Linked DNA regions of Homo sapiens. The protein of the gene in region 2 interacts with the protein of the main gene of each other region in a biochemical or structural test. Each region holds a gene or a part of one and is shown on either strand. Other genes may lie near its edges.

Region 1 (3,500 bases), on a different chromosome or scaffold from region 2:
GCCCAAGCACCCACATACAGCCCCCAGTGCCCTCCAGACCTGCCAACCTTTGCACAGCTCGCATTGTCTTACACTTGAGGCTCAGCCTCACACCAGCCCTTCCAATCCCCTGCACACTCCTGACTCTTTCTTACCTCTGTGCTTCTGCTCAAGCTCTTCTGTGGCCCAGAATGCCCTCCCCCTCTTCCTCATTCTTCCACTCAGCTCAAGTGGTCCTTCCTCCAGGAAGCCCTCCTCACCCACCCCAGGCTGGGTTAGACACCTGTCCTTTATGCTCCCAAAATGCATAGTGTATCCACCTCTATCACTGTCATTACCAAATTGTCCTATAATTTTCTCTTTTAGTCAATCTCTCCCCAACCTGATACATGGCAGGTGACCTTAGAAAGACATACACACAAAACGCCCAAAGGCAGAAGGACAGGCAAGATGAATTCTAGAGATTCTCCAACATGTGCATGCTAGCCCGCACCAATCACACACTCCACAAGCTGGCAGTCAACAAACATCCACCCACGCACTCACCAGACAGGTGTGGGGGCAGCCCCCTCTACCTGCAGCCACTCAGGTCATCACCTGGGCATGATTTTCTTCTACAATCCCCTTCAGGGGGGCCTCTTGTGCCACATGTCCCATTCCCAAAGCCCTCTGTAGCTAATACCCCATCCCCTACTGTGCCTCCCCAAGCACAGTGCCCTTGTGCCCACCTCCCTGGAGCACTGTACCTTGGCCAGGGATCTTACTATGGGACTTTCCATAATGCCTCGAAGGAAGATCAGGTCCAGCTCTGCAGCCCCCGTGGCACTGGGGAGGGATCCCAAGTTGTCCAGGACTTGCTGCATGGCTGGGGGAAGGTACGGGCAGTGAGATACACAGGTACCAGCTGGGTACAGAAGACCAAAACACACCACAATACTTGCCACTTCCCCACCCCCATGTCCCACAGAAGGCAGCCCCTCCCCGGCAACATTCCCCTCCCTGCCCAGCACAGGCACCCCAGGCCCTTGAATGCCTGGGACAGGGATCCTGGAGGAAGGGGACAATTTCCTTGGCCTGTTCTCTCCACCCTAGGTAATGCCAGCCTGAGCAGGTGGGAGGCTCCAGGCAGCTGGAAGAGACTCTGAGGTGGAGAGAAGGGAGAAAGGGAAGCAGGTGTCAGGTTGCAGATCCTGCCCTGCACCAGAAAACCACAAGCTGTTGGGTGGATCACTTGAGGCCAGGAGTTCAAGACCAGCCTGGGCAACAAGGCAAAACCCCATCTCTACTAAAAATACCAAAATTAGCCAGGCATAGTGGTGTAGGTCTGTAATTCTAGCTACTCAGGAGGCTGAGGCAGGAGAACTGCTTGAACCTGTGAGGCAGAGATTGCAGTGAGCTGAGATCACGCCACTGCACTCCAGCCTGGGTGGCAGAGCAAGACTGTCTCTGGCCGGGCGCGGTGGCTCACGCCTGTAATCCCAGCACTTTGGGAGGCCGAAGCGGGTGGATTGCCTGAGGTCAAGAGTTCAAGACCAGCCTGGCCAACACAGGGAAACCCTGTCTCTACTAAAAATACAAAAAATTAGCTGGGCGTAGTGGCAGGCGCCTGTAATCCCAGCTACTCGGGAGGCTGAGGCAGGAAAATCGCTTGAACCCAGGAGGCGGAGGTTGCAGTAAGCTGAGATCCTGCCATTGCCCTCCATCCTGGGCGACAGAGCAAGACTCCGTCTCAAAAAAAAAAAAAAGAAAAAGAAAAGAAAACCACAAGCTCCTCACTCAACCTCTAGATGGGCTGAAGCCCAGGGCTCAGCCACCTGTACCTGGCAGGCTCAAGGATGAGACAGACAGTACTCGGAGCAAGTCCGTGAGTACAGGCCCAGAGTCAAGCAGGCAGCCACACAGGAGCCAGGGCCTGCAGCCTCCAGTCTAAGCACCACTAATTCAGTGTGACATTGTACAAGTCACTGTCCCTCACTGGCCTCAGTCTTTCCTGCCTGTAAAATGGATGGATTGGGCTAGATGATGTTTACAGGCCTTCAGCTCTGAGTGACAATGATCTATAATCACTGAGAAATTAACATGGATGATAGGAAGTCAAAGCTGAGGCCTGGAACGCTGGCAGGAGCTAGGGAAACAGGCACTGGAGGCCTTGGTGTGACCCAAAGGCTGAGGTCACACCAAGTCATCACAGGGATAAGCAAACTCTCAGCCCGAAATGGGACATAATGGAGGACACGATAACACCTGCAGCTGGGCCGCAACAATGCCCCCGAGACCTGAGGTGAGGGCTGCCTTCACTCACTGACAGAGGTGGGAGTTCCAGGCTGTGGCAAGTTCCGGGGAAAGGAAGCGAGAAGCAGAATGTGCCCAGCTGGGGGCAGAGATGGGCGAAGGGTATCATTACTCTGCCACCATGCCGCCCATGCCTACATCTGCATAACAGTACCCAAGCCACGGAGGACGGCGGAGGATGCACCCCTGGCGCCTCTCAATGCTCTTGTCAGTGCCCCCCTCCTCCAGGAAGGAACAGGAGTGGGGAGGAGGGGGCACTGGAACTGGAGCTGGCAGAGATGGTTCAGGGACTCCTGGACTCCCATCTCCTTCCTCCTCCTGCTCCCTGCCTTCTCCAGAAAAAAAAGTGCAAGCTTGCCCTTCAGACCCCTCTTGCCCAGGCCGGGGCTTGGCATTGGTCAGAGACCTGCGAGGCCCTCAGTGGGCTCTGAAAGAGGCCAGGGCAGGGACCCTTCCCTTCCTGCCAGGGTATGCCAGATTCCCTCCGTTATCTAGGGGAGGACTGAGCCAAGGGAGTTGGTGCCCTCTGCCCAGGACAGCTCTCCTGAAGGTGCCCTCAGATGACCTCTCCCAGGCCACCCTCCCCAGATGCCCCGACTCTGCTGGAGGAAGGTAGGCTAAGGGGCCAGCTGCCCCGCCCCCATCTGGCCCGCCCTTCCCTACCTTCCCTCTGGAGCTCCGCTTCCTCAGAAGACTCCAGGGATATACCCTCCAAGGAGACCCCGCTGCCTGGGCTGCCTGCCATGGCGGCCCCCAGACCCGGGGACTCCCGGAGCGTCCTACACGCCGCCGTCTACCGCCTCCCCAGCCAAAGCCTGGCCGGGCTGGGGAAGGCGGGAGTCGAGGAGCGCCCTCTGAGGAACCAGCCAATGGGAAGGCTCAGCCGCCGTGACCGCCTTGCTGATTGGCTAAAGCCCTGACTGGCGCTGCGCGGTGCAGAGCAGGCGGTAACCCGGGTGGGAGAAGAGTGGTGGGAGGGAGCCCTAGTCCCACAGATTGCCCGATCCCCAGCATGTCAGTGTCGGTGGGGATGGGGAGGAGGCGGCTAACAGGAAGTTTTGAGGAGGGGGTAGGCATGCTGCCCCTTCAAGACTGGCGCGGTACTCCGAGACCCTCCCCTCACAGCCAGCTTCAGGAGACCCGAGGGAGAAAAGTCTTGGCCCATCTTGTCCCTGTACCCTCTTTTCTAGAAGCCCCTCCTCTAATACACCCCATGCCACCTCCTCCCT
Region 2 (3,500 bases):
CTAAGGCTGCTGCTCAATTTCTAGGGTCACAGCTTCCTCCGTTCATGCTGAAAATCATATGAAGATGGGTTGAAAAGAATTAGTGTACACCCAGAAAATAAACAGGATCTACTCATTAGTATTTCAGTGTAAGGATGAAAGCTTTTAAAAGTACCGACATGGCTATGATAATTGAACTAGAAAAATAGAGAGTTTTTTTTTTCCTGTTGTAAATTTTATTTGGAATGTCTGAAATTTTAGAAATCATTCAACATTCTTTTTAATATACAGTATTTTTAAAAAGCCATTTACGCTGGGTGCGGTGGCTCATGCCTGTAATCCCAGCACTTTGGGAGGCTGAGGTGGGTGGATGACTTGCAGCCAGGAATTCGAGATTAGCCTGGCCGTCTCTACTAAAATACAAAAGTTAGCTGGTCATGGTGGTGCATGCCTGTATTCCTAGCTACTCAGGAGGCTGAGGCATGAGAATCGCTTGAACCCAGAAGGCAGAGGTTGCAGTGAGCCACGATTGCACCGCTGTGCTCCAGTCTAGGTGACAGAACAAGACTGTCTCCAAAACAAACAAACAAACAAAAAAACTCGTTTACAATTCATAATCTCTTGACAACTTCATGATCCTGCTTTGAAAATGTGTTTGCCGGCCAGGCCCAGTGGCTCACAACTGTAATCCCAACATTTTGGGAGGTCCAGGCAGGTCGATCAGTTGAGCTCAGGAGTTCGAGACCAGCCTGGGCAACATGGTGAAACCCCATCTCTACAAAAATACAAAAAATTAGCTGGGCATGGTGGTACGCCCAGGTACCCCGGAGGCGGAGGCGGGAGGATCACTTGAGCCTGGAAGGTTGGTGCTGCAGTGAGCTATGATGGTGCCACTGCTCTCCAGCCTGGGAGATAGAGCAAGACCCTGTCTCGGGGGAAGAAAGATGCTTGCAATTTAGAGATCTCTTAAAAATACTTTAAAAATGTGACACTGAACTGAACTCGAAATTCCAAATTTTAATCATGAGTTAAATTCTACTGACGCTTTCACTATGTTGATAGAAAATGAGAGTGGAGAAGAGCACAGTGAGGGAGAACACAGAGTTCTCAACTTAATAATTTTGTGTTTTTATCATAACATGTGAAATGAAAAGTTTAATAATGTCCTGTTCCATAAAGGCTAGAATGACTACTTGTGCTTGTAAGAATTGTGACCGCTCAGTAATAAATATGCGGCGTTTAACAGAATTGGTGCATTGTGTGATGCTGTGTCTCACCTAATGTCCTGTCTCTGTGGCGTGTGAAACCCTTCGAAGACTTGAGCTTGAGGTCATCTAAACACTTGAATATATGCAGTTAGGTTTTCAGCACAGGGGCTGTGTTCTGTTTTGTGAAGAATGTGCAGTCACAGTAATTGATGGAAGCATTTTACATGAAGGTCTCCCTAATGAAGAAATATGAAGATATTAATATCTGATTTTTACTGCAAAAGTTATTTTTCTGCCGTATTTATAGATTTTCAGAGATCTATGCTAAAGATATTTAAGCTTTAGACTGGGAGCCCTTCTCCTTCAAGGCTAGACTAAGTAAACACTCTTTGTTTTGGCTTCGGAAAATGCATTTTAGAAATCCCAAATTGCAGTGAGTTTAAGTAGTGTGATCACCTTCTAAATATCAAAGTATAGCCCTTGGCTCAGATGGTCTTTGGAGTTTAATTTCCATAAGCAAAGGAGTCTAGGCGATAAGGTCCTTTTTAGATGAAATGGTGTTGGAGTCTCTCCCCGCTTCAGCTTTACTGTTTGTTTTGCATGAGAGCCACAGCCATTGTTTTGATCAGGGTGGTTTTTATAGTGAAACCTGAATTCGTGGTTCTTGGTTACATTACTGCACGGTTAACAATGTCTTCCAAAAAGTGTATTTTTTCATTTAATAATTTATTCTACTCACAGTAGCATTCTGTTAGCCAAGTTTGCAGAGTACATTCAGGTTTTTCAAAGATTTCAGTTAGGAATGTGGTCCACAAGTCCGTCCCAGCTGTATTGTGTCCCGTGAGAACTGCTGAGTAGGATGTGGAAGGTAATTGCATGTTTGGGAATCCAGTTGGGGATGAGTGGGTGGTGGTGGGGGCTGTGGTGGGACTGAGCACCTGGGACAGCATGGGGAGAGAACAGCCAAAGCAGTCTGACGTGTTGGCCATGGTCTGTGTGTCTTAGGGGATGGAACAGTGCCAGAGCCTTCTGGTGGGGGGATGGAGGGGGAAGCAGCGTGGCGCATCAGCAAGTACTTTTTTTTTTGTTTTTGAGACAGAGTCTTGCTCTGTCACCTAGGCTGGAGTGCAGTGGTGCGATCTCAGCTCAGTGCAACCTCCGTCTCCCTTGTTCACGCGATTCTCCTGCCTCTGCCTCCCAAGTAGCTGGGACTACAGGCGCACACCACCGCACCCAGCTACTTTTTGTATTTTTAGTAGAGACAGGGTTTCACCATGTTGGCCAGGATGGTCTCGGTCTCTTGACCTCGTGATCCGCCTGCCTCGGCCTCCCGAAGTGCTGGGATTACAGGCGTGAGCCACCGCGCCCAGCTGGATTAGTGAGTATTTATATTATATAGAACTCCAAGTTCTAATGTTAGGCTTCAGCTGTAGAAAAATCTTTATTTACTCACTGTTTCTTATCACACCACTATGCTGTGGTTCCCTTTCCTCCCTCAGTGGCCGACATCTCCCCTGTCAGGGCCTCCCGTTTGGACCCTTCAAATCTTGGGGTTCTGCTCTTGGATTTTTTTTTTCTTCTGCCTGCTCTCTTCCTTGGTGATCTCATTCAGTTCTGTGGTTTTAAATACCGTCTTTCATATTTAGACAACTCTCAAATTTCTATCTGCCGGCTGGAGTCTCCCACATATCTGCTGCCCACTCACAATCTTTACTTGGATAGCCCGTAGCTGTTCCCATCTTACCCTGTCCAAAACTGACCTCCCGATCTGCTCCCTGAGGCTGCTTCTCCTCCTGTCTCCCTCTCGGTTCCTGGCCCCCTTGTTCTCTACGCTGAGCAGTCTTTGGCATCTTCTCTGGTACTGTTCTCTCCTCCTTTCCCTCCCTCTCCCCACTCCAGCATCAGGCAACCTTGAAATAGATTCACAATCTGCCCCCCACCCCCGTTGTGCCCCAGCCCACACGCGCTCCACCTGTGTTGTGGCTGCAGCCTCTGACTGCTCTGGTCGCCCTCCAGCTTCTGCCCTGGCTGCCCACAGGTTTTTCCATTTTACTGAGACCGTGGCACTCCTCGGTTCAGAATCCGCTGGGGGACTTCTCATTTGATTCATACTAAACTCTAAAGTCCTAAAAATTGTCCTTTATCCATGAGTCCAGACGGATCTTGAGAAAAAAAAAGATTCAGGTTGGATGCAGTGGCTCACACCTGTAATCCTAGCAGTTCGGGAGGCCGAGTTGGGCAGATCGCTTGAGCCTGGGTGTTTGAGACCAGCCTGGGCAACGTGGTGAAACCCCGTCTCTATAAAAAATACAA

What was found. The genes of interacting proteins can lie anywhere in the genome.
Region 1: the proteins of FAT1 (region 2) and MPP2 interact in a test that uses a peptide from one of them, tested with the Homo sapiens proteins (one large-scale study listed by IntAct).

Annotation. Positions count from the first base shown.
Region 1 is NC_000017.11:43,897,537-43,901,036, forward strand, and holds part of MPP2 (MAGUK p55 subfamily member 2), read right to left. Parts: intron 3,089-3,500; exon of another isoform or gene 3,017-3,088; coding exon of another isoform or gene 2,935-3,016; intron 845-2,934; coding exon 726-844; intron 1-725. UniProt on the Homo sapiens protein: Postsynaptic MAGUK scaffold protein that links CADM1 cell adhesion molecules to core components of the postsynaptic density. In CA1 pyramidal neurons, required for synaptic KCNN2-containing channel function and long-term potentiation expression.
Region 2 is NC_000004.12:186,713,857-186,717,356, reverse strand, and holds part of FAT1 (protocadherin Fat 1 isoform 1 precursor), read left to right. Parts: intron 1-3,500.